Linked DNA regions of Homo sapiens. The protein of the gene in region 2 interacts with the protein of the main gene of each other region in a pairwise test. Each region holds a gene or a part of one and is shown on either strand. Other genes may lie near its edges.

Region 1 (7,030 bases), about 27 Mb from region 2:
CCAAAAGCAGCAGCAGGAACTGGTTGGGGTGGGGCAAGAACAGTAGGGAAGGAAAAGGGGGTGAAATACAGTTAGGTCATGGAAATGCGGTCATCTATGGCCACTCCCAAGCTGATACCCATAGTGGCTCACAGAAGCAACAGGAGAACTTTGACATTTATTAAAACCATCAGCAACATATATGAGAAAAGACATATTTGAGTTTAGTTACCAAGAACATGTGTCACCCGACAATTAAAATATGGATACCCACAGTCTGCTAGATTTTGTAAATAACAAAAAAACATGCTCCTTGCCTGAGTTTGTCCTTAAAAAGGAGTGGCAACATGAAGGAACCCCCCTGGAAGATGGGTTACTTTAAAGGTTGTGTTATTAACAAGTGATGTGGTCCCACACAGCTGTGGGTCACAATAACTCATTATAGTACCCACCCAGAGAGACCACTGGCTCCTTTAACACCAAGTCCTAAAAAGCTATGGCAAAACATTTTTAAAATGTTACAACATTCACAATAAAGAACAGTAGCAATAAAGCACAGTAGAAATAAACTGGGGGTACTCTCAAAAGAAAAGATATTCCTCACTCCAGTCCCATTTTCTGGGCACCAATTCCCTTCCACCCCAACATGCTTGGATAGCATCAACACTTGAGATATTTCTTAATTCCTACCTGGACTGAGATTAGGAAAACTGACACTACTGGGCTTAAATTGGGCGAACTGTTATTTTAACCTCTTATATCTGTAGGGTGGGAGGATGGAAATACATTCCTACCGAGGTTCGTTAATTCCTTCTGACTAAGCCAAAGAGTTCTTCATTACCATAGAAGATAATTCATTCTGAGAATAGGACAATCGACCTATTTGTCTGGTCATTATCTTCCACAATTGACAAACACATACAAACAAGTGCTTAGCTCTGTACAAAGACAGACCTTACAGGAGAGTGCACACTAAAGCACTAGTGTTTAAATTATTTTCCATAATGAAAAAAGGACATTTCTCACATTGGAGTTATGTCTGTACTTCTGTCACATGACTCACATCACCCAAGAACATGCTAAGTCTCTGTAAATTCAGTTTCTATTAGAAAAACCACAGGAATACACATTACTGTACATACACATGCCCTGATGCAAGCTAAGATAAACACTGGGATGTGGCCCTTATCAAATCTTAGAGTTAGCAGGATAGGAAGAGTTGATCTTAAAGATTAGAAGGGAAAGAACACAGAAACGACCTACATTCCTTGGGAAGGGACTCTGTGGTTCCTTCCCTGAAGGACTCAATTCCACTTGCTCCTTACACTTAACTGTCACTGATGGTCCTATCTTTTCTTGAAGATATTTTCTATACAATATTCCCTATAGTGATCCCCAAAGAAAATTCATAAATCTGATTAATGGCAGTAATAACTGTGGGCATCTTCTGCTAAAGTCACCATCATTGATGGGTCCTTGGTCCCCAAACCTGTGTCTCATTTTTCCTTTCCAACCGTATCTTCAGTTAGCCTTCACAAAGATGCAAGCTTTAAAGGAGCTAATTAGAAACAATGAGAAGGAGAAAAGTTACAATCATTGCCTTCATCGTGCAAAATCTTGCCCTCAGGAAGATGGAAAAGATACAAATGCATGAGCAACTCAAGGAAAAAGCCCTTTGGAAGGGAAGATGTGTGTGCCCAACTACTATGGTGTGTGAATAGGTGTGGCAATTTAGGCAGAGTCTCTAGTTGCCTTTTTCCAAAGCAGCCATTACCACCCTATTACAGTCCCACGTTTCACTTAGCATAGTTCCTTGGGCCAAGGATGGGAGAAAATAACATTGAAAGATTTACTCCATTTCCAGGCCTAAGCATTCACCAGCATTTGTCCCCTGGTCTTCAGATTTCCAGTTACTTGTGGGGCTGCTTTTAATGAAGTAACCCATTGAGTGAATAAAAATCACCATTTTGGAGGAGATAACATTCCCAAAGCTGAGGGTCAGAATTTCAAATGGCTTGTCATCTCTGATGGTTTAAATCGTGGCCCACAACTAGGAGAGTATGATAAAAGCAGCTCAGTCTTGAGGGCGTTCATTGATATCAAATAAAATTGTATCTTCAAATGAATCATTTCTCAGCCATCATAATTACAGCTTAGTCCGTATGAACTCTCTTATGTTTAATAAGAGCTGAGCTCCTGCTGAAACTCTTCTCACATTCGGTACATTCATAAGGTTTCTCTCCCGTGTGAACTCTTTGATGTGTGATGAGGTTGGAGCTCTGGGTGAAACCTTTCCCACACTGCACACACTCGTAGGGCTTCTCCCCTGTGTGGGTTCTCTGATGTTTAATTAGATCTGACCTTTCACCAAAGCTTCGCCAACACTCATTACACTCATAAGGCTTCTCTCCAGTGTGAATTTTCTGGTGTGTGATGAGATGAGAGCTCCGGCTGAAGCTTTTCCCACAAGCATTGCATTCATATGGCTTCTCTCCAGTGTGAGTTCTCTGGTGCTGAACCAAGTGTGAGATGCGGCTGAAATTTTCCCCACATTCGTTACAGTGGTATGGCTTCTCTCCCGTGTGGGCTCTGCGATGACGCACAAGGTCGGAGTTCTGACTGAAATTCTTCCCACACTCATCACACTTGTAGGGCCTCTCCCCTGTGTGGACTCGATAGTGTTTGATGAGATCAGATCTCTCACTGAAGCCTCGGCCACATTCGTTACATTCATAAGGTTTCTCACCCGTGTGGGTCCTCTGGTGCTGAGCTAGGTGAGAGCTCCGGCTGAAGCTTTTCCCACACTCCTCACACTCATAGGGTTTCTCACCACTGTGGGTCCTTTGGTGTTGGATTAGGTGAGAGAGACGGCAGAAACTTTTTCCACACTCATTACATTTGTGAGGCTTCTCTCCAGTGTGGATTGTCTGATGCTGAATCAGGTGAGAACTTCTTCCAAAACTTTTCCCACACTCGTTACAGTCATAAGGCCTCTCCCCAGTATGTGTTCTTTGATGCTGAATAAGGTGTGAGCTGCGACTGAAGCCTTTTCCACATTCATAACATTTATAGGGTCTGTCTCCAGTGTGGGTCTTCTGATGTCGATTAAGGTCTGAGATCTGACTGAAGGCCTTTCCACAATGAGAACATATATGATAGCGGATGCCTGTGTGGACTTCTTTGTGGACAAGTAGATCAGTGACTGGTTGGAGAGGATAGCTTACCCACTCTTCTGCTGTTAAATCTCCCCATTGTCTTTCTGACCTATCTCCGCTTTCAAAGCCCTCTTCACTTTCAGGATTTTCCTCAGCATTCTCAGCAGGTCTTTCAGATGTAGTCCCAAATTGTACATCTTCACTAATCTCTTGCTTGGGATTTACCTCGTTCTCACTCCTGATCTCAAAATCTGTAATAAAAAGTAAACAATAAGACTAGTAAGTACAAAAATTACCTATTGTGTGCCAGGCACTATACTAAATTTTTTTTTTTTTTAGACAGAGTCTCACTGTGTTGCCTTGGCTGGAGTGCAGTGGTGTGATCTTGGCTCACTGCAACCTCTGCCTCCTGGGTTCAAGCAATTCTCCTGTCTCAGCCTCCTGAGTAGCTGGGACTACAGGTGCACGCCACCATGCCCGGCTAATTTTTTTATTTTTAGTAGACACAGGGTTTCACTATATTGGTCAGGCTGGTATTGAACTTCTGAGCCACTGTGGCCAGCCTAAATTATTTATATTCTTCGTCACATATATTCTTTATCACAGCTATTCTGAGAGTCAGGAATTGTGATTATTTCTACTTCATTAATGAGAAATCCAAGACCCAGACAAGTGAATTGACTTGCTCAAGGCCATAGTAAATGGTAGAGCCAGTATTCAAACTCAGGTCTGTCAAAATTCACATTCTGTATCGCTGTAATTAATGATTCATTAAGAAAACTATACAGGCCAGGTGCCGTGGCTCACGCATGTAATCCTAACACTTTAGGAGGCCAAGTCAGGAGGAACACTTAAGGCCAGGAGTTCAAGACCAGCCTGGGCAATATAGGGAGAACCCATCTCTACAAAAAAATTTAAAAAATTAGGTGGATGTGGTGGCATGCAACTGTAGTCCCAGCTACTCAGGAGGCTGAGGTAAGAGGATCACTTGAGCCCAGGAGTTCAAGGCTGCAATAAGCTGTGATTGTGCCACCGCACACCAATATGGGTGACAGAACGAGACCCTGTCTCTTAAAAAAAAAACTATATATATTCGTGTTTTGAAAGAACACTGGAAGCAGAAAATATGAGACTCTAAATTAGAATATCTAAAAGGCAAGATTCTAGGTATTTTGTGAGTATGTATTTTTTAACTTGCCAAGCCTTCATCATTAGTAGCATCATAAAATATTTACTAAGAAGCCACTATGTTTTTGTTTGTTTGTTTGTTTTGTTTTGTTTTTTGAGATGGAATTTCACTCTTGTTGCCCAGGCCGGAGTGCAATGGCGCAATCTCCGCTCACTGTAACCTCTGCCTCCTGGGTTCAAGCGATTCTCCTGCCTCATCTTTCCGAGTAGCTGGGATTACAGGTGCCCGCCACCACATCCAGCTATTTTCTTGTATTTTTAGTAGAGACAGGTTTTACCATGTTGGCCAGGCGGGTCTTGAACTCCTGATCTCAGGTGATCTGCCCGCCTCAGCCTCCCAAACTGCTAGGATTACAGGCGTGAGCCACCGTGCCTGGCCAGAACCAACTATGTTAATATGGAGAAAAATGAATCTTTACCTATGTCATAGTTGACAGAAAAGTGACTGACAAATGTCACTTCCTACTTTTCAGTGACCTTTTAATGAAAATAGGAGTGGGAAAGTTGAAGAAGGCAAAAAAGATGTCTGGCTGAGAACATTCTTGGCATTGTCTAAGTATATTTCACATGCAGTCTTCAAATGAAAATCAAAATACACAACCACTGTCTACAAGGAGTTTTATACCAGACACTGCATTCTCCAAATTGGGTTTCTTAGTACACTCTTCAGAAAGAAAGTATGTATTTTGGGAGAAAAGGGTTCATGGATAAACTGGGTTGGTAAATGGTACATACAATATCATTTCCTTCAAAATTCACAATGCCTAATAACACATTAAAGGTTCTAAGGAATCCTGAGGTAAAAAGGCCTTATAAGGCCAGATGCAGTAGCTCAGGCCTCTAATCCCAGCACTTTGGGAGGCTGATGCAGGAGGATCACTTGAGCCTAGGAGTTTGAGACCAGCCTGTGCAACATAGGGAGGTCTCACTTCTATTAAAAATAAAAAGAGGCAGGCCGGGCGCGGTGGCTCACGTCTATAATCCCAGCACTTTGGGAGGCCGAGGTGGGCAGATCACGAGGTCAGGAGATCGAGACCATCCTGGCTAACACGGTGAAACCCCATCTCTAAAAAAAAAAAACGCAAAAACTAGCCGAGTGTGGTGGCGGGCACCTGTAGTCCCAGCTACTCAGGAGGCTAAGGCAGGAGAATGGCGTGAACCTGGGAGGCAGAGCTTGCAGTGAGCTGAGATCGCGCCACTGCACTCCAGCCTGGGCAACAGAGCAAGACTCCATCTCACAAAAAAATAAATAAATAATAAAAAAATAAAAAGAAGCTGAGCATGGTGCCTGACACCTGTATTCCTAGCACTTTGGGAGGCCGAGGTGGGCGGATCACTTGAGGTCAGGAGTTCAAGACCAGCCTGACCAACATGGTGAAACCCCGTCTCCACTAAAAATACAAAAATTAGCTGAGCGTGGTGGCATGCACCTGTAATCACAGCTAGTCGGGAGGCTGAGGCAGGAGAATTGCTTGAACTCAGGAGGCAGAGGTTGCAGTGAGCCAAGATTGGGCCACTGCACTCCAGTCTGGGCAACAGACTGAGACTCTGTTTCAAAAAAATTAATTAATTAATTAATTAATTTAAAATTTTTTAAAAAATAAAAAGAATTAGCCGGGCAAGGTGGTACGCATCTGTGATCCCAGCTACTCAGGAAGCTGAGATGGGAGGATGACCTGGGCCTGGGAAGTCAAGGCTGCAATGAGTTGTGATCGTGCCACTGCACTCCAGCCTGGGCAACAGAACAAGATCCTGTCTCAAAAAAAAAAAAAAAAAAGCCTTGTAATCATTTTTAAACCCATTCCCATTCCCAAACTTATTTGGGCAAGAAACCAGTTTTTTGGCGCTTTCATCCTTCTAACAAGTGCTTTTGGGGCTAAACTGTAGAATTGTAAATTCACATTTTTTAAAGATTGTCATTTTTTGCTTTTGTTGGATTCAGTGGAATATTTGGGTTACAGACTGCAATAGATCTGGATAGATAACTATTTATGGTTACTTTTATAAAGAAAGGATTCAAGAAACTAGGGACATCAGAGAAAGCTCAAGTTAAAAAGGAAAGCCCTCAGAGTTGCCTTTTGTTCTGAAAAAGGCTATGGGAATAAAGATTTCAAAAACAGGATTAATCCTAATGAATGGCAAATGACCTAGTGACCCATACACGCTTGCTAATGTCTGTCAAGTCTTGACAGGAGGCAAAGTGAGGCAAAGTGAGTCAAAAGACCGTTCAGCTCAAGAATATACTCTTTATTCTAGTTACACCCAGACCAAAGTACAGCAAAGAGAGAAGACAGGCTTGCAGACCATGAAAAAAAAATCAGCTGCCCTCTCTAATAGAATTTGTGATCTATTTCAGCATTCTTCTGGAACAGCATTTGACACACTACAAATCTATCATCATCAACACTGAAACATCTCTAGATGAGAATCTACTCAGCTAAGGAACTTGAGGCAAAGCTAGGGCTCTGAAGCCAAAACAAACACAAAAAGGTGGCTTTCGCCCTCCCATGAACCTGGGTTAGAATCCCCTCATCTTTTAGCACCCTAGAGTAAAAGCACTAGTTACGGGGCATTTATATTCTGGCAAGCACTATTATGCCAGACCTGTTTGGTCAGTGATCTGTACAAACAGGCTGGAGATTGGAAAATGACTCAGGGCACAAGAAATCTGAACGTCTAAGACGTGCAGAAGCAGTTTTTTTCTTTTT
Region 2 (7,030 bases):
TTTGTTTTCCCCAATCTGAGTTACATTAAAATAAAGACTCAGTTGTTTTTATTTTTCTACTGTGCAGTAAGAAAAAATATTCACAACAAACATGACAATATATCAAAGAATAGTTCTACACAAGTTACCTTGATACCTCTTTAACTGTCACTTAAATATCATAAGAAAACATTTTAAGACATATACAAACAAAACTAGCCAAGTGTTACAACTTATAATAAATTAACCCAAAGAAAAAATAACTTTATATATATATATTTATATTGTATATACACATACACACACAACAGAATGACACAATAATATGCTTCTTCCCATAGTTTAAGTAAACAAATAAGTAGTCTAGCCAATCTAGCTATATTTGATCTCGGCCATAGGCATCATCACATCGGCGATTAAATAAATAAGTGTTTCAAGCAACATAAACAGTGTTTCAAATGTACCAACACAGCCCAATTCTATCAGCATGGGCTACAAAGTGAATTTGAAAATTTCTTAATGAATTTAAAGCAAATGTATCTTTTGTTTTCCTCTCCTAAACACATTACATTTAACTATGATACTAAGATATGTAAATAATTTTGTAGCACCTACTGCTCAAACTAAGGAAGTTTTAGATCAAAAGGAAAATTAATCTTTTTAATTTTTGTTCTGCTGACATCCCATACTGATGACTTAAAGAAAAACTGTCTTTCAACTCATCTCCTTGCTTTTGGGTTTTGACTGTGGGGAACTGTGGTACCCTGGGTAGAACGAACACTCCTTTCCCCTAGTAATTAATAATTGTTTTTTAATTATTATTACATGCTATGAAAAGATATGAAGATCATCTGTTTATAGCCCATCCTTCAAAAAACAGTCTACGAATCCAGTTTAAAACACACATCTTGATCTCTAAAAAGTTACCAGTGCAGTATGAACGCGACAAAGTTGTCAATTTCCCCTAAATTAGCCAGTCAAAATATTTTTTTCTCAAATCCAGATTCTCTTGTAAAAATTCTTTATATTTTATAAAAATAGATTTTTCTTGAAACCCATTTTCAGCAAAGAGACCACCTCTTTGGCAACAATGTTAATGTTATTAAATTGTTAATGTCATCAGGTATCCCCCTTGCCCCCATCCCCTAACAGAAGACTGTTTTAGTTCACATGATATAAAAGAAAGAAGGAAAAATAAAAAAATTTGCAAAAGTTTTTTTTTATTTTTGCAATTTTTATTATTCCTCTTTAATTTGTGTGGGGGTTTTTACCAATCTGATTGGATCGATATTTTGACAAAAAAGAAAAATCTTTTTTTCCTTTCTTTGAATCCCATTACTTTGTAAAAATTGTTTTATTTTTATTATTTTTTTTGTTTTTTGTTTTTCTTCTTCAAATGAGCGAATGGTCATCTTAAAAAGATCCACCTTCAAGGAAGGTAGTAAAGTTAGCTGGCTGGGTAAAAATCCCTGCACATCGCTATCTATGTATATTATATTCAACAACGACAGCTATGAAAGAACATTCAATGCATCAAAGGTATTTTTTGTTTTTTTTTTTTCTTTTTTTCTAAGCATTATAAAATCCTTTCCTGGTACACCTCAGGATAATCCAATGTTTTAATACTTAGGCAACACTGGCTTATAAAGTCCATGGTTGAATATAAGCCTTGAAAAGTTTGTTTCTCTCTCTTTCGTGTATGTGTGTGTGTGCGCGCGTGTGTTTTGTTCGTATATATTTCTATATATATTTTAGTAAGTAAGAATGGGAAATTCAGGACTTGTGGGCTTTGTTGGTTTTAAAGGAAACTTGCAACACTCTGTCTCCCAGGCGGTACCCGTTGAGGCTGGCGATGGCCATGGCCGCCTCATCATAGTTGGTCATGGTGACAAAGCCGAATCCCTTGCACTTGTTGGTGTTGAAGTCACGAATCACCTTTACGTTGTTCACTGCTCCAAAGGGGCCAAAGAGCTGCCAGAGGACACTCTCATCGGAATCGGGGGACAGGTTGTAGACAAAGATGCACCACCCAGTTCCTGTGTGACCAGGGATGTTCATTCCCACAAGGCTTGTCATTCCATCAATGGTAATTGGGGAGAACCTGGGGGGACAAGCAGAAGGGGGGACTGGTCCAGACATCAGTCTGACCAAGGATAACACACAGATGCACAGACACAGACATGGGGCAGAGGGCTGAGTGAGTGTTTACAGGAGAGTCTTCAGGGTTCAAAAACCAAAATGTAAAAACTAATGTCTATGTCATTTCCTCTGATGGGAATGGCTTGACTGGCTAGGGCATGTTCATGCTGAGAGAAAGACCTAGGTCAATTTCTAAAAACCATAAGGGACTCCCAGGGCTCCCAGAGCAAGGCTCTGTAACAGTTCTATCACAGTATATGCTCATAGCGCACCCCAACCTGACTCCACCCCACCCCGACTCCACCCCACCCCAACAATAGACAATGTGCTCTTGGAGGAAAGGGTCTATTTCATTCATTCTGTGGCTCTATTTGTTTATTCAGTGGAGCACATATGGGAATCTCACAGATATAGTGACACATAGAAAATGCTCAATAAATATTTATTGGTTGAATAAGTGACTCACTTTGGCCAGTGCTTGGGAAATTTCATTGTTTTTTTTTTTAAAGGCAGATTAGGAGATGGCCCTAAAGTGCTTAAGTCTACCATTTTTGCACTCCCTTGACCTACGGTTGTCAAATGTTTCTTGGTGAGGATGGAGATACGTGACAATGAACAGGCCTTTCTTGCTATTAAACAGATGGGTGGTTCATGTTTCATTTAGCATTTATTCAAAAGGGTTTCCCCCACAAACTCAAGCAATAATAATAAAGATGTATTACTCCTTTATGCTATGTTATCTGGAATTTATTCCTAAGTATCACTGAAGCAAGACTGCAAGTGGTTTGTGCATTTATATATCTTGAATCGCTATACATTAGAAAAGCATAGAATTGTTATTTGCCCTATTACAACTGCTTTTGTATTAGGTTTAGAAATCTTCTCAGTTTTTGTGCAATCCTGAAAAGAAAAAATGACCCTTTAAATTCTATTCACTGTCTGATGAAATAAATCCTTGTGTAATTTGTGAGGGATGTACCAGATGAAACAATTAGGTTACCAGTGCCTATAGCAGAACAATATTTGTTAATGTTTTGTTTCATATCAAACTTACATAGGGACTTTTTTCTTTTTTTTTCTTTCTTTCTTTCTTTCTTTTTTTTTTGAGATGGAGTCTCACTCTGTCACCCAGGCTGGAGTGCAGTGGCGTTATCTTGGCTCATTGTAACCTCTGCCTCCCGGGTTCAAGTGATTCTCCTGCCTCAGCCTCCTGAGTAGCTGAGACTACAGGCACGCACCACCATGCCTGACTAATTTTTTTGTATTTTTAGTAGAGACGGGGTTTTGCCATGTTGGCCAGGCTGGTCTTGAACTTCTGACCTCAGGTGATCCACCCACCTTGGCCTCCCAAAATGGTGGGATTACAGGCATGAGCTTATATACGGATTTTTGATGCTATACACTGAATAGTTTCTTGCTTTTCATTTGGCCAGGGTTTTACTGGGGGAGATAGGAAAAGGAGAGAAAGCAAAAACTAGGGAAGAGCATGGTGTAAAGTGTGAGCTACAACTGTTTTTAAAAATAAGCAAATATTCTTGGAGATTTGAAAGTCCTATTAAAGAATAGTTCTGTATCTAACTAGAATTTGGATAATCAAATGGCTACTGAATATATGCTAAATATAACAACTCAATAGACAATATTTTTGCTATTATTCACTAAGTCAATCTTCCCTCTTGTTTAAAAACAATTAACAAGAAAAAGCCAAAAAATATCATGGTGTAGATCCTTAGACGTGCAAATCCATGTCTATTTGTAACTTGTATCATTTCTGAAGATTGTCTTTTTAATATTCTATCCTCCAACCAAGTGAGTTGACCCTGGTGAACTGACCTCTTTCTGTTTATAGGTAGAAAACAGCTAAGTATTTATTATAAGTCAAAGGTCAGGGCCAGCAAAGAGATTGCAAGTACAGCCTCTATCCTAGTTGGTGACAGTTAATTGCAGCATTTTGGTAGGAAGCGTTCTAAATCCAAATCTGGGTTCAATAGGAAAAGAGAATGCTATTATCAGCTAGTGATGTTTACTCTGGGTGGGGCAGTGGAGGAGGTGGTGGCAGGCCTACTACAGCTGTGTCTTCCCCTATCTTATCTATTTATAAGCATTTCTCTTTTCACAACATTTAGCACTACCTCACTAACATCAGAGAGGAGCAAAGGAATGAGATAGAGCTAGGAAAGATGTAAAATCCCTGGGAACAGGCAAACAGTGTGCTGGAAATGTGGAGATAATTCATAGTTATCCTCATTGATGCTGGGATTGAGATTTGAAAGGCCGGTCCTCTGATAGTGAAGTCTGCAGTCAGGTTACTTCCTCTACCATGCACCAGTTCCCAGAGTCAGGGTACTTACCATGGATGGCCAGTGAAAGAACTGGGGGTGTGATGTGGACTATTAAAGACTACATCTCTTTCCCTTGACTGTAGGAAGGGGAATTAAAGTGTGCAGCTCTACTGAGCAAGATGATGAAGACACTATGTCCCTAGCAGTGCAGTGGAGCTTATCAGAAGCACATATGGGAATCTCATGGACACAGTGACATCACACACCCAACTTTCCAAGATTCAGATTTCATACTGGGTCTGGAAAACTTTGAATCTGCATTCAGAGAGCCCCAAAAGCCTTGACTCTGGGCCCCCAACCCCACAAAAAGCCTTTCAGTGACAGGAACAGCAAGTTTAAAACACACATAACATATAACCAAGGGAGGATTTATAAGAACTGTTAAAACCTGTAACAAAAGAAACCCCTGGTTGAGGTGCACACAGATACACTTCATTCTCAGGATGTGCTCTGAAATGCACACTGAAGTGGGGGCAGGAGTTAGAAAGTCATCCACGTGTTTGTTTATCCTTTGGCCAGAGCTGGTAGTCCAAAATCTAATTTTTCTACTGAAAAATCATAAGATTGTCAACCACAATTAGCAAAATGTTCTAATTCTGATTTGCTGGAATCTGCCCTCTTAACTGAATCTTGGCATTGCTAATGCAAAACAGTTTGCTCTGCAAGTTTGCAAAACCAGCCAGCAAAGAGTCGGAGCCTTTCCCCTTAGGGGAGCCATTCAAAGGACCAGATTATTAAGGGCTTGGTAGCTGTGGCACCTGAACCATAGGAGAAGCCCACCTGCAAATAAAAGAAAAAGTGAAACACACAAATACATTTTGTGTGCCCTAAAAGAAACAAAATCAACTGAGGTCCGAAATTAAAATTAAGAATTTGACATGCTGGTGGAAGAAAAAGGAAGAATTTTTTTCTTTTAAAGTAAAGTTAGTGAATTAAAAAAAAAAAATTCTAGCCCCAGTCTGTGCCAACATGGACATCTGGCAATCTGTGGAGTTTTAATTACCTCTTTACGCCATAGGCCATATTAAGCAAATTGTCCAGCCTGCAAAGAGAAGGAGGGTCTCTGGGTTAATGCCTCACAGATGGCAAGATCGCTCAATGGAACTATTAATAAGAATGCTCCATTTTCAAAGAAGAAAAGCTCAACAACTTTCCCCACTGCTTAGGAGTCTATCCACCGGTAGTTTCCCCCTTTTCTGTCTCTAACTGCAAGTAATTCATGTTCAGGTCATTGCTAGAGTTTAAAGCAAGTGTCTAATGAGTCTCCCTTTCTTTCAAGGTCTGAATTAATACCATTCCCCCCACCTCTCAGAACATTTGTGTGGATTTTGTTTTATATTGTAGTGAAATTGTTCAAAGCGGGGGCTTCTTAAATTGTTCACCTTTTTACTATAATTAAACTTGTAAATAAAGGTCTCTGTTCCAGATTAACAATACACAGGCACACAATATGTATCAGAACAGATCTTTTCTGTTAGCCTTGCTACATTAACTAAATCATCTTACTACACACATTTTTGGGAGGCAGGGGGAGTTTGCAGGTTAAGATTTTTAAAAAGTGGCTTACTGTTTACTGCCTGATAGCACCTCCCAGCAAACTGCCATTACGCTATAATCTTCCTCACATTCACTACCTTACTTGGGGACAAGCTATTCACACCATAGGGCAGTAGTAACGATAGTTTCCACCATTAGAAGTCTGCTGGAGAGGCTTTTTACATAAATACTGCATGTGCTCTCAAGCAAAATAAAAATTAGATGACTTGGACTCTTCATGAAATCATTAACCATTTCAAATTCACAGGGCATAGGAGGACACGAAAGAGGATGATTTTTCTCCTCATGTAGCCAGATGGAGCATACTATCCTAGATAGAAGGACCTACTATTTCCCATGTGAAGTTTCTCAAAGAGAAAAACATTTTCATCAAAGGGAAGCTGGGCTGTGGTGTGGAATAAAGTAATTGTTTAGAATTTATCATGGGTAAGTCAAACATATTTTTATCTCTTGTATAATAGAGACCAGTCAAGGTCATACTGCCTTCATGGAGAGAAACCTGTCTTTTAGAAAAGTCCCAGGAGAAGGGCAATGCCCCCCTGCCCCAGGAGCTTCCTGGGGGTTGGGTACTTGAAGGAAACACTAATCAGGCTTGGACAGGATCTTCCTCCCTATCTTCCCAGAATCTACTGACTTAACATAATAAGGTTAACACCAAAGGCACTTCCCCCTCCCCTGAACTCAACAGAGTTACCTGCCGAGGGAAAAGAAGATAGGAAAAACAACTCCTTCTGGCAAGGATCTGCCTTATGGTCTATTTTTTGAATTTATTAAAAGCCACTGTCCAGCCTTAAGTCTAATCTGCTGAATGTGGTCACTGATCTGTGATTAACTCTTGTTGAAACTGAACCTTCATGTTTGGTTAAATACAGACATTTTGTTTCTACCAAAGAATCTAAAGTTTATACAGTCACAGTAGTAAATTGGAAGAGGGCTTAGAAGGGCATCTGCTCCAACTGTCTCATTTTACAGGAATGGAAACTGAGGCTCGGGGGGAGTTTTGCACAGTGATT
Region 3 (6,964 bases), on a different chromosome or scaffold from region 2:
TTGTGGGGAGCAATTCATGATGGGCGTTCTTGTCTGGTTTCCCCCCACTCCGTCCCCTGACGCCGAGTAACACTTAAACCTTTCTAGTTGCAAAGTCTTTTCAGAGTTGTTTTTTTTTTAAGAAATAAGTTTTGAAAATTCTAGTGCTTAAAATATATATATATATATATAATTTATAGCCTTTTATTTTCTCTGAGTACATGTTGGCCACTACATTCCAAATTGATCTCAAATGGTTTTCCAGCTTGTTGAGGGGTGATGAAAAATAAATGGAGAATATATTTACATGCCCTCCTATTCTTTTCTTTTAGAAGTCTCATAAATAGTAAATTTCCTATTTTAAAAGCCAGGACATTTTCAACCTCAAATATTTGGAATTTTTAAAGGCCATATTAAAATGGATTACTTCTGCTATCTATAATAAATATGAATTGTGAAAATAAATTGTTTGAGGGAAAGTAACGTAGGTTTTAAAAAGTTCCATTTAGAAAGGGAAGAATGAGATGTAATAGAAAATAAACGATGTAGTGTAGTGACTTAGCATTTTATTTCGTCTATATAACTAGGCTTAATTTTAACACCTTAATTTTAACATTAAAGATGGCACGTCAGACACACAGATAAGAAATCAATGTTCTGAAATTAATATCCTACTTACATTAAACATCCCTATCAGGAAGACACAGAGAGTAGAAGCATTTTGCACTAGACTTAGGAATAATACTTCCAGCTCCAAGGAAGTGAAGAAGGGGGAACATGTTTGGCATCGGAGGCTGTGTTTTTGTTTGCTTGCTTGTTTTTCTTTTAATGCCAGAACAAAATACCCCACTCACGTTCATAGTACCCCAGGAAATGCGCAAATCGGGACAGCCATAGAAGCCACAACCGAAGGCAAGAAAAGATGACTTGACGCCCTGCGAAGGTTACGTTCAGGTGGTTTTTAGAGGAACGTAATCCAGCTGTTTCTTTCTAACCATTTTGCAGCGAACAGAAGTTCGTGTTTGCTCTCCAGCGGGATTCAGATGCACACGCCCTGAATGGGCCGCGCAAGGTGAAGTGAGCAGCTGCGGGTCGCTCCCCACTCCCACCTGGCTCTAGGAGGGCCCTGCGGAGTTGGCCAGGGAACTGGGCGTGGGCGATACTAAAAAAACTGGTGAGGTCCCCTCTCCGCCCAAAGGGGCAGCCAGCGATGTCAGCCTAGAGCCCTCTGCCACTGCCTGATACCTCAGCAGGGCCGACGAGGCCGACAGGTGCCCGCCCAGCACCGCGCCCTTGGTGGGAGCGCAGCCGTTGGCGCAGTCCTCCTCCTGATGCTGCTGCTATTGCTGCAAAATTGTCCGAGCAGCGGCGGCGGCGGACACTTGCAGCAAAGGGGCAGCGGTCTGGGGATGCAACAGGCTTGATGGTCGCTGGAGCAGGTGGCAGTAGCTCCACGCGGTCGGGGACAAACTCTGCGCAGCCCCTGTACCCGCTCCCCTGACCCCTTGCATAATACTCTCAATGCTGAAAGAGATGCATCCGCCTCCCGGTGGCGACGCCAGACCCTTGCCCTCCTCCCAAGGCTGAGGACCAAGTGAGGGCTGCAGCACGGGAAGGGTGCCGGGGTCGCCAGGGCCGCGCCTTCTGCTTTCTTCGGTGCCCCGGCATAGACGGGGGCCGAGAGCAGTAGGTAGCGAAGAGGATGCGGGTGCAGCAGAGCGTAAGGGCGTCTCCCGGGGGCGGTGTTGGGGTAGGCCCCCGGGACTGGCTGCGGCGGGGCAGGGGCCCCAAGCAGAGGGCCTGGGTGGGGGTTGTGCAGGGCGGCGTGTGCAGCAGGTAGAGGGAAGGGGTGGGGCAGGTGGGCTCCCGGGGTCAGTTGGTGGCGCTTGAAACGCTTCCTACGCCGGAGAAAGCTGCCATTGTCGAACATGTCTTGGGAGGCGGGGTCCAGGCTCCAGTAGTTGCCCTTGCCTGGGTGGCCCGGCTCGCGGGGGATCTTAACGAAGCAGTCGTTCAGCGAGAGGTTGTGGCGGATGCTGTTCTGCCAGGCGGGGAACTTGCGGCGGTAGTAGGGGAAGCGGCCACTAATGAAGGCGCAGATGCCGCTGAGCGTGAGGCGCTTGTGCGGGTTTTGCAGGATGGCCATGGTGATGAGCGCGATGTACGAGTAGGGGGGCTTTGCCGGCTGCCGGGCATCTTCAGAGGCCGCCGCAGACCTTGGCGGTGCCCTGAACTTGGTGCCAAACTCTGAGGGGTCGCTCGGGCCGCCGCCGCCCTCGATGTGCTCTCGGGGAAGCGCAACCCCGCCCCACCGGGCCACCTGCAGCCCCGGCTGGAGCGACTGCTCTAGGAACTGCTGGCTCGCCGCCTCCTCCTCGTCTTCCACCTCGTCTTCATCTTCCTCCTCTCCCAGGACATCGATTTTACCGTCTTCCCCATCGGAGTCCCGGAGGCTGCGCTGCGGTGTGGAGCGAAGGCGCTCAGCTCTTGGCAGGTTCATGGAGGAGCAGGTGCTTCAGTCGCAGGGGATGTGGCGACCGATCACCTAGCCTGGGGCGGGCTGAGCTGGAAGCCTGGGATGAATGTTGCAAGAAGCAGGAACGCTAGTGGTTACCCTTTGGGATGTTTTCGTCTGCTTGTTTCTACTCCTTTGCAACAACGTCCGGCAAAGATGCCTTTGCCTTTTATAAAAGCTTCTTCAAGACCATGTGTGGTGGACTCCCCCCTTTATAACCCTTCTTCCCCTACCTCGGAGCGGTGCCACTTCCTCCTAACGTAGTCCAGGGATGATGGTCTTCTGGGCAAACACCCGTCCGGAGAAAAGCCCAGCCCCCTCCTCCTCGCACCCACCTGCCACCAAGGAAGATGCTCTACTCATCCGGTGCAGCCAGACAGTTGGCAAGCCTTTGCACGGGTTCTGTTAAGGCGCATTTAAACCCGCGCAAATAAAAGCGAGGTAGGAAAGTATGATACTCAACATTCTATGACCACCTCAACATGCAGCCTTCCCGCCTGGAGAAAAGAAATGGTGGGGCAGGAGGCTGAAATGTACACGGTTGTTTGTAAAGGAATGTGTAACCGTAAAAGTATGTTTTTGTGTTTCACAGCTGGTAATCACCCATTTTCATTGGTAGAGTCTGCCCTTACCCAGAATGGTGAGCTGAATTATATTTAAGGTTCTGACAATATTCCCAGGCTTCAGGGGGGTGTTGCTTTGCTCCTTCTACCTTCCTTCCCACCTCCTCAAGATGCTCTCCCTGACTCAAATTTTCAGAAAAGGCTCAAATGTCCCAGCACTAAATTGTGTAAGTTTACTCAGGGAAGGCAGGAGAGCTCACACGGAGTCCTCTGTCCCCTTGTAGCAATGGTTCTCCAATTTCTTTGAATATTTAACCACAGAAATACATTTTATATCACAATCTCACACATACAGACATAATACATAACTAAGATGGGTTTCACGAAACAATATACTTACACTATAGTGATCACTGATATTTCCTTTTAAAAAAAAATGGCCATAACCAACTAAATTGATTTCACACATACCAGTATGGGCCCAGTTTGAAAAATCCTGTTCTTACAAAGTGGCCCCACATACAAGAAATGCACCCACTCTATAAGGGCTTCTCTCTCTCCCTTTCCTCCTTCCTTTCTTCATCCTTTATAACCAATTCATTTTTAGAGACAGGGTCTATGTTGCGCAGGCTGGCTTTGAATTCCTGGGCTCAAGTGATCCTCCCGCCTCAGCCTCCTGAGTAGGTGGGACTACAGGCGTGCCACTATGCCTGGCTCTGGCTCTTCATTCTTTTTTTTTTTTTTCTTTTTTTTTTTTTGAGACGGAGTCGCTCTGTCGCCCAGGCTGGAGTGCAGTGGGGCGATCTCAGCTCACTGCAAGCTCCGCCTCCTGGGTTCACGCCATTCTCCTGCCTCAGCCTCCCAAGTAGATGGGACTACAGGCGCTCGCCACCACGCCTGGCTAATATTTTTAGTAGAGACGGGGTTTCACCGTGTTAGCCAGGATGGTCTCGATGTCCTGACCTCATGATCCGCTTGCCTCAGCCTCCTAAAGTGCTGGGATTACCGGCGTGAGCCGCCATGCCCAGCCTCTTCATTCTTTCAGAAATGTCAACATTAAGTGCTTTTACTGTAATAAAACTTGGGACTTCAATGAGGCAAGAAGGGGCTGCAGTGTTGCCTTTAAATCAGTGGGTCCTCATTCACTATCTGCACTGGGGAGGGGCAATATGACAGCACAACTGTTCATCTCACTCCCTCCACATCCTTAGAAGTAACACGATTTTTAGATTGGCTTCATGAAAATTAGCTCAGAGACTAAAGTAGCACTACAGAGGAATAAAAAAAATTTGTTATATAAATAAGAATCTTATTAAAATACTAAGTAAGATACTATGCCACGGTATATATTCATAATTTAAAACCCACCTACTTGGGAAAACTTTGAGGTGCCATCTAATAAAAATGCAGCATGAAAGAATATTATGCCCTTGATAGTCACATAGTGTCTATAATTATGACAATGAATGTTCAGTGAGAAATCAAACGCCAACTGCAAGGGCAAAATATAATAAAAAATAGCTTAAAGTAGCTAGTGCCTTCAGGATAAAATCTGGAAAAGAGCTTTCTTGCTGATCTTTTTTTGAAACTTTGCTGCTCCTGAAGTTTTTACCCTTTAAGGCTCCTCAGTTTATATGAAGCTTGGAGGACAAATAACAGACAGGTTTGAGCCTAACAGATTTGTTTGAATCCCAAATTTACCAATGACTGCTTGTGTGACCTACTAAACTAAGCTCCAGGAGGGCCAGGCCAGGTGTCTTATTCAACCACATAATCCCAGACGCCTCCTCCCCAGCGCCCCCCAGCATGTGAGGCAAATTTCCTCCATCAGCATAGGAATCGGATGACCTGGGAAAGGGAGTATTAGTTTTCCTAGAGCCAGCTTCAATAGGGATTGGGGTTATTTAAAAATACAGGAGAAAAATAAGGAGGCGCTCAAAAACAAAACACAAAACCCACACTGATGGGGGTATGTCAAAGGGGGGAACAGGAGATAACGGAAAGAGTTCCCAATGGTCAAAGCTGGGATAATTTGAGCAACAAAATAAAGTAGTATTAAATTGTAACCCAAAGTATAAAATATTCATGTGTCCACACTGATAAACATAAATGATCGAACTAATAAAGCGAAAGGGACAACTGTCCCTTGCAGAAGAATTTCAATTAATTATGTAGACCACTCCCAAGAAAGTACACTACAACTCCCCATTCCTTTAGTGTGGGCTGTGCATAGTGATTTCCTTCCAAAGAGCACAGTATGAAATGGGGGAGAAGAGTAACTTTACAATGCAGAAACCTGACAAACACTCCTTCAGCCAGGTGATCAGGTCGTCAACATCAACATCAATAACAGTCATAACCTTTTATTTCATGTCATAAAATGGTGACACTTACTTGTGTTAAAAAAATTTAATAACAATGTAATCATTATATCTCTGCAATCAGCTGAAGTTCTAAGAAAAAATGACAATGTTGAAAGTTGTATCATCATTATTATAAACTTTCATGTTCAGTATATGTAAACTCCAAAGCCAATTTCAAAAGATATTTTTGTGAAATACCATTCTTTAAAAAAAAGGATATTGTATATAATTGTATGAATGTTAAATGTTTTACAGTACTGATTTGCTACATTTTATGTATGCTGTAAAACAAATACCATTTTAAAGTATATTGGAATTCGTAACTAAAGTAATAAATAAATGCTTGAAATATACCCAGTAGAAACTTATTTTTATTATCCAATCCTTTTGATAAGAAATGCCTCTAGTGTTATGTACAAACTTGATCTTCTTTGAAATGTGTTGTCCACTGCTTTTCTGTTTCTGTCACAGTAGCTATAAACAGCTGTTTAAGGATATCCTTATCTAAATTTCTGCCTGCAAACAAAACAAAATATGACGTGATTACATTATGCTTATTAAAATGACACAGTTCACCTATCAATTCCAGTTCATTAAATGCTTTATGGTGTTTAAAAATTTACAAAAAGAATAGTAATTGAGTGATTCCATCTTTAACTTTCCAGGTCAGTACATCAAAGTCACATTGGTCCTTGGATTAACCACTTTTCTAAAATTGAAGAAGAACAAAAGTCCTAACAAGCTTTTACGAACATTGTAACGTGACAAAGATGAAACATTGACCACAAGCTTATTTAGTTTTAAAAGAGGACCTGAATGGTTAATCTGTTTAAGTGGCACATGATATCCCTTTCAAATATATTTTTCACTTTGTTTCAAAACTGTGAATCCTTTGAGACTTACCAATGAGGACCAATCGATTTGTTCTCTCAGTGTCATCCTTCCAGCTCACTGGAGTCTCCTCCAGATCACAGAGCTCATGGACACCCTGGACAATCACTTGTTGTGATTTGTCTTTGATTGACACCAATCCCTGCTCAAAGGAGAATTGACTGAACATTAATCAGCCTCAGTTCAAACTTAAAAGCAGAAATAGAGCATCAATGTTAATGGATTAATTACTGATATTCACTTAAAAAATACAAACTCTTAAGCTGAGAAAATTACTTAATTCCAATTATTTGTGAATTACAAGAAGTTTCTTAATGTTTTTAATTTTCAAAAAAGGTTTCTGTGTATTGATTTTTTTTTTGAACAATCCCCTTTTCTAATGATAAAGTTAATACATATATTAGGATGGTTTTTCAGTGTTATTTATCACAACCAAAACCTGAAACAAAATGATGAAATATGTATCATATCCTATTGATTAAAGATTTTATATAATGTTTCACAGTTTTAGTGGGAAAAGTTGAGAAGTTAAAGGAGTTTGGTTATATTAAATAATTTGTTTTAGAAATGGGTTGCAATCAATGAACAATGTTGAAATAAAGAAAAACTATTATATTTATCTGGATATGAGCTCAATTTATCTGAATATGAGC
Region 4 (6,326 bases), on a different chromosome or scaffold from region 2:
TGTTCCCCATTTCACAGAGCAGAAAACGGGCTCTTTAAAGGAATGCATCTGTAATAAAGGGAAGGTTTATTATTCCAGTTAAGACTGAAGGATAGTTAGAGTTTACTCTTCAAATTTGTTGAGCCAGTATTGTTACGTATCTGCACTACATTCATAATCTCATTGAAAAATAATTTTCATTGCTTCTCAAACTCCAGATAATAAAAGGAAAAAAATGTCACATATTACTTTTTTTTTTTTGAGACTGTCTGGCTCTGTCGTCCAGGCTGGAGTGCAGTGGCGTGATCTCGGCTCACTGCAACCTCCGCCTTCCGGGTTCAAGCCATTCTCCTGCCTCAGCCTCCCGAGTAGCTGGGATTACAGGCGTGTGCCATCACGACCGGCTAATTTTTTGTATTTTTTTTTCAGTAGAGACAGGGTTTCACCGTGTTAGCCAGGATGGTCTCGATCTCCTGACCTCGTGATCTGCCTACCTTAGCCTCCCAAAGTGCTGGGATTAGTTAACACACAGAAATGTTCACCAATTAACACTCTAGTGTATTTAATCTCAGATTTTTTTTTAGTTCATCTGTTATATGTAAGTATACATTTTTAATGAGACAATAAATGTATAGATTGCTTTTTAAATTGCTTTATTAGCTTTAAATTTTTCCATGCAAATGGGTGAAACTACTGCTGACAGAAACTTACACTGAGTGCAAAGGCAATCTTCAAATAGAAGCTGGCAACACAAGACCCACTTGACACATGGAAATAACATAGGGTTCACAGCAAACGGATCAGTAAAGGCATATTAGGAAAATGCAAGGAAAAAGAAAACAGCGGGAATCACAGTATTAATCTCATGATAAATGGCAGGAGTCAAGGCATAAGGCAAAATTCATCATGATGGTCATGGTGATTAGAGAGCTCCCCCATAAGGATACGCAGACAATTCCTCAACTGCAGCTCCCTAAGTTTTCTTCTGATTTCTCTCATCTCCTCCATGAATATTTCCATATCATCTCCATCTCCACCCATCCCATCATTGATCTGCCTATTGGGTATGGCCCATCGAAAATTAGGGGCAAGTCGGCGAGCCTGTCCCCGTCGATTTCCTGCAGGCTGGTGGCCTTCACCTCCTCCCAAAGGGCGGTCTTCCTCTCCATTCTGCATAGGCTGCTCCATCTCTTCGTTTTCCTGGTGAATATTTGCCATGATGAGATTTTTTTTTTCTGGTTGTTTTTCTTTGAACACAAGTAAGACAAAGGCAAGGAGAGAGACTGAATGCTTGGTGCTCTGACCAGCAGGATTCAGAGCCCTGATATCAAAGGATTTTTTAATTTCGTTTTTTCCCACCTTAGAAGTTCCGCGCGTCCTCTACGGGGCCTCCAATTAAAGCCCCTCCCTCCAGCTTTCTCCCCTTACCTCCCTTCCCCCAAACCCACCATTTTTCGTTTCCCGGGATTCTTTCCCAGAGCTTTGCAGGCACCAAAATGGAGGACCGGTATAGGAGTGGGGGATGGGGTGGAGGGGGTTGGGGTCTCAGACTGGGCTTTCCTTACGTTCCGACCCCCGCCCCACCACCGTCCCTCGCACCGACCTGGGCCTATCCTTGCAGTCTCCTTCTCCTCCGGATTCTCGCCGCGAGGTGCGCCGCGGAGACACTTAGCCTCGCAGACCTGCAGTCGAGCCGGGGTGGGGGTTGTGGGGGGTGGGGGCTGCTGCAGCGGAACGCTAGCGAAGACCCGCCGCCGCCCGGCCCTTTCCGTGCTCCGAGCCCGGGCTCCCCTCGCTGCCAGCGCCCCGCGTCTCCCGCCCCCCACCCCCACCCCACCCTCGAACGCCCAGCCCCCCGCGGTGTTCGCTGTTTTCCTGCAGGGACTCGGGGGTGGGTTTCCATCGCTCTTGGTGGCTCTGCCGCCCCTGGAAACCCAGCCGCCCCTGCTTCCCCATCCCTGGGGGCCTCTGTGTTCCCAAGCATGTTGGGGTGTGGAGAAAGCTGGCGGGGACCCCCTGCGCTGTTCTGCGCCTGTCGCCGAGGTCGGTCAGCCGCTGCTGGCATGGCCGGGGCTCACGGGCCCCGGAGCCCTTACCTGCTCCGCTTTTCCCCGGGCCGAATGCCAGCCCGCCGAGCTCAGGGCAGCGGGGAGCTGGTAGCCAGACGCGAGTGACGACTGCACCGAAGGCTGCGTCGCTCTGCAGCTCTGGGTCACGTGAGGGCCGCGCGTCACCACCGAGCTCGCCCCCCAACTTGGGCGGCCAGTGCAGCAGGATCTCCCCCTTCCCCCCACCCGCCACCGCCATATGCACGCGCAAAAAACAGCCTCCCTACTCCCGTCTGCATGAGGTGCCCCAGAGCGCACAGCCCTGTCACTCTTCTCGGTCCTCTCCAATCTGAGGGCCCACAAGTGGCATCACTGCTCTGCGGTTGGAGTTTGCCCTCCTCTGGTTACCAGGGAGGGTCTGCATCATCCTCCACCACTGCCCCCTCTCACTTCAGGCCTTGGCTTTGGCCTTTTCTGCTTTCTCTCCTTTTCTACCTGGCAACATGCTTTGCGCTGCACTCCCACTTCTACCCCTTGCGTGTGCACAGCCATCAATGCCCACGTAGCCCCTGAATTCCTACCCTTCTAGAAAATTTAGAGTGAGGGCTAAGGTGGGGAGGCAGGAGGGCATTTGTCAGAAAGCGGGGCAAGGAAGTGGAGTGGACTGTATATATTTCTTTTTATTTCCTTAAAAAATCTGCATGCTTCAGAAAATTATAAATTATAAGTTTTTAATTTTGAAAGAAATGCTGGTTGGGCGCGGTGGCGTACCTGTAATCCCAGCACTTTGGGAGGCCGAGGCGGGTGGATCACTTGAGGCCAGTAGTGTGAGACCAGCCTGGCCAACATGGTGAGACCCCATCTCTACTAAAAATACAAAAATTAGCTGGGCGTGGTGGCGTGCGCCTGTAATCCCAGCTACTCGGGGGGCTGAGGCAGGAGAATCGCTTGAACCTGGGAGGCGGAGGTTGCAGTGAGCCGGGATCGCACCACTGCACTCCAGCCTGGGCGACAGAGCAAGACCCTGTCAAAAAAAAAAAAAAAAAAAAAAAAAAAAAAGGAAATGCTTTATCCTGCACAATGAAATCTCTCATTGTTTATGTTGACCTGTACCACACAAAATATTTTTTCTGGGCTCCACACAACATCAAGCCATTACTTTTGATACATACTAGCTCGTTTAAAATTTTATTTTTGGCCGGGCATGGTGGCTCACGCCTGTAATCCCAGCACTTTGGGAGGCCGAGGCGGGCGGATCACGAGGTCAGGAGATCGAGACCATCCTGGCTAATACGGTGAAACTCCGTCTCTACTAAAAATACAAAAAAATTAGCCAGGCGTGGTGGCACGTGCCTGTAGTCCCAGCTACTCGGGAGGCTGAGGCAGGAGAATCGTTGAACCCGGGAGGCAGAGGTTGCAGTGAGCCGCGTCGCACCACTGCACTTCAGTCTAGGCGGCAGAGCGAGACTCCGTCTCCAAAAAAAAAAAAAAGAAAAGAAAAAAATATATAAAAAGGCGGGACTCTTTCTTTTTCTTTTTTTTTTTTCCCCCGAGACGGAGTCTCGCTCTGTCGCCCAGGCTGGAGTCAGTGGCGCGATCTCGGCTCACTGCAAGCTCCGCCTCCAGGGTTCATGCCATTCTCCTGCTTCAGCCTCCGGAGTAGCTGGGACTACAGGCGCCTGAAAGGCGGGACTCTTTCTGAACACAGTTGGTGTTTTCGAAATGATCTGTAAAGTGAATCTTCAGGGAGCAGTCTGGTCGTCAGATCTTCACCATTTTATGTAACTTTGATGTTTTTGATATCACAGTCATCAGAGAAAGGGAGTCTTTTATTCCCTGCTTTCCTTTCCAAACCTTTCAAACCATCCCTACAAATATCTTCTTAGTATGAGCTCAGAAGTTAAGTACATATTATGCAGAAAGTAGTTTCAAAACCATCTACCCTTTGGTGCGAATGTTTCAAAATATATTAGAAATAAGCAGGGGGTGTGTGAAACAACTTAACTTGAGACTGAACCTTATCCTGAGTGCAAATGTTCCTTTCTCCAACTTGAAATCATTTTTAAAAAAATTATCACAGCTAGAAAATAGAGATGTCTTTAGAAAAGTGGCATTGTTATAAAAAATATTTGATATCTGTTGTTTATGATAAGGAACCAAAAGCATTAAATGCAGCACTGAGGCAAGACAAGCCAGACAAATGCTTACTAACTCTAGTTTTGGCCCCAAACTCCTGTAGAATTTCCTACCCTGCTAAACCAGATGACACAGTGAATAAAGGAAGAGTATATGCCCAGTGTGTATGTAGTTAGACGTTTTGGAGATATGTATTCCATATAAAATTACATATATATTCTTCTAGAGGTATATGGATATATTAGTACATAGCTCCAAAACATCAAATTATAAAATCACACTCAATATTTGTCTTTTAAAGAAATGTTAGTGATTCCTGGATTCTGTCTCACAGTTAAGAACTTTTTATACAGATTGCTATATTAATGATATCAGCTGGAATGATGCAGTTTCAAAGCATGAACAGTAGTATCAGACAAGTCTGGCTTCAAATTCAGTCAGCTGTTTACTTGATGTTCAACTTTGGATCAATTACTTATCAAGGTCTGTGTGCTTCCTCTGTGAAACAAGGATTGTTAGAATTACACATAACAATAATTTACTACATAGCCTAGTAAATCATCAATTTTTGTTGACATTATTTTTATTGTTATTCGATGGTTTCTAACATGATTTAAAGAGTAGCAGAGTATGATTCTTTCCTTAGCTAGACCCACTTGTTCTTAAAATCCATGAGGGCCCAAAACATGCTTGCTGTGTTCTATTTTGTGTACCCAGTGACTAATAGTGTTCCTTGCACCAAGTAGGTGATTACTGAATACTTGTTGAATGAATGTATCCAGTACTGAGGCGAATAGGTTGTTTTTCATTCTGGGGACTGTATTTAGAGCAATACGGAAAAGCTTTTATGAAAATTAAGAATTACCTAGAAAAAAATCTCCTGAAAGCTGAGAAGCCACTGTGATGTGACTATTGGATATGAAGTTTAGCAAGTGGATTTTTATTTCTTTTGGTGGCTAAATGCTTTGCTGTTTTCCTTTTCACCCATCTTGGATAAATCCTGTGTTCAAAACCATCAAATTTCCTTGGATGAAAACAGACATTTGTTTGTAACATCCAGATTGGATATTATGCTATATTGATTAGTTGTAATAAAGTAATGTTTTAAAGATAGGTGAAAATTATCCGGGAAATGCTGTTATCTTTACTAAAATGTTGTGAATAGGAGTTGATTGAGATGTTTTCTTGACCCTGAAGTTTTCTGAGGAGTTGGAAATAGACAGCACACTGTTGAGAACAAAAACAAATTTTTTCAAGGCCAAGTTAGAAGGACACTATATTCTGCATTTGGGATTCATGTGTCCCAAAAGGCAGAGAGAAGGTGAACTGATTAGATGGTTCTTATCCCCACACACACGTTTTACACATGTTTCAAGCCCAGGAGCCTCAATTCTAATCTGCCCTGGAGGCACCAGGAGGACTCAGAATGAAAAGTGAGATTGGCATTTGAAAATGAATAGAACCAAATCTTTAGTCTGACTGAAACTATTTTAATAAGCAGTAGTGACTGAAAAGTTGGAGAACTGGACAGAAATGTAGTTAAAGAAGCCCATTGCCCCATGCGAAGTGGGGGAGGGAGTGATAGAAAGAACACTGCTGATACAGCTATTGGAAAAATAAAACTGTTTCATGATTTGACCTCAACTAGTGAAGATCCCTCTATTGTATTAGTATCCCATCAGTGGAAGCTCGTTTTTGCTGAAATCTTTATGTGTATTGCCATGACATGGCTCACATGTACTTGTCTGAAATGCACCTGGTTGGACTGTGGTTATTGTCCTGTTTTCCTCTCATTATCTCTCCTGTGTAAATGCTAGGCTTGGGAGAAGGTAGTCTGAGCCCTAGTGGGCCCTGTGGGTATGAGTATCTCTGTTCCTGCCTAGAATAGGTTCTCTATGTACCTCTCTGATGCTTTACTGATACTTTTTTATTGTGATTCTCTCTTTCTCTCTAAATTTAAGCACCGATTACAGACTGAAACTAGGTGTTAAGAATATAGGAAATTATGCCTACTCCAGCTTTCCTCTAAGCTATGGCCATTATAACTTTGATGCCAAGATTTCCAAAATGTGGAATGAATCTGATGAAATTTTAAGGGTGTCACTGTAAGAGTTTCAATGATTTGGGAGATAATATATTTAATTCAAGAGATCTAGTCTGAAA

What was found.
Region 1: the proteins of ELAVL4 (region 2) and ZNF436 interact in binary tests that used the Homo sapiens proteins (3 or more experiments, as listed by UniProt).
Region 3: the proteins of ELAVL4 (region 2) and FOXD4L6 interact in binary tests that used the Homo sapiens proteins (3 or more experiments, as listed by UniProt).
Region 4: the proteins of ELAVL4 (region 2) and BEX3 interact in binary tests that used the Homo sapiens proteins (3 or more experiments, as listed by UniProt).

Annotation. Positions count from the first base shown.
Region 1 is NC_000001.11:23,359,837-23,366,866, forward strand, and holds part of ZNF436 (zinc finger protein 436), read right to left. Parts: intron 3,386-7,030; coding exon 2,133-3,385; 3' UTR 1-2,132. UniProt on the Homo sapiens protein: May be a transcriptional repressor.
Region 2 is NC_000001.11:50,195,901-50,202,930, reverse strand, and holds part of ELAVL4 (ELAV-like protein 4), read right to left. Parts: intron 5,503-7,030; coding exon 5,464-5,502; intron 2,123-5,463; coding exon of another isoform or gene 2,081-2,122; coding exon 1,753-2,080; 3' UTR 1-1,752. UniProt on the Homo sapiens protein: RNA-binding protein that is involved in the post-transcriptional regulation of mRNAs. Plays a role in the regulation of mRNA stability, alternative splicing and translation.
Region 3 is NC_000009.12:41,125,905-41,132,868, forward strand, and holds FOXD4L6 (forkhead box protein D4-like 6), read right to left. Parts: upstream 2,778-6,964; 5' UTR 2,480-2,777; coding exon 1,226-2,479; 3' UTR 531-1,225; downstream 1-530. Other genes in the region: ZNG1F (zinc-regulated GTPase metalloprotein activator 1F), read right to left, coding at 5,830-5,936, 6,324-6,453.
Region 4 is NC_000023.11:103,372,363-103,378,688, reverse strand, and holds BEX3 (protein BEX3), read right to left. Parts: upstream 2,076-6,326; intron 1,662-2,075; 5' UTR 1,583-1,661; exon of another isoform or gene 1,227-1,582; coding exon of another isoform or gene 1,168-1,226; coding exon 862-1,167; 3' UTR 525-861; downstream 1-524. UniProt on the Homo sapiens protein: May be a signaling adapter molecule involved in NGFR/p75NTR-mediated apoptosis induced by NGF. Plays a role in zinc-triggered neuronal death.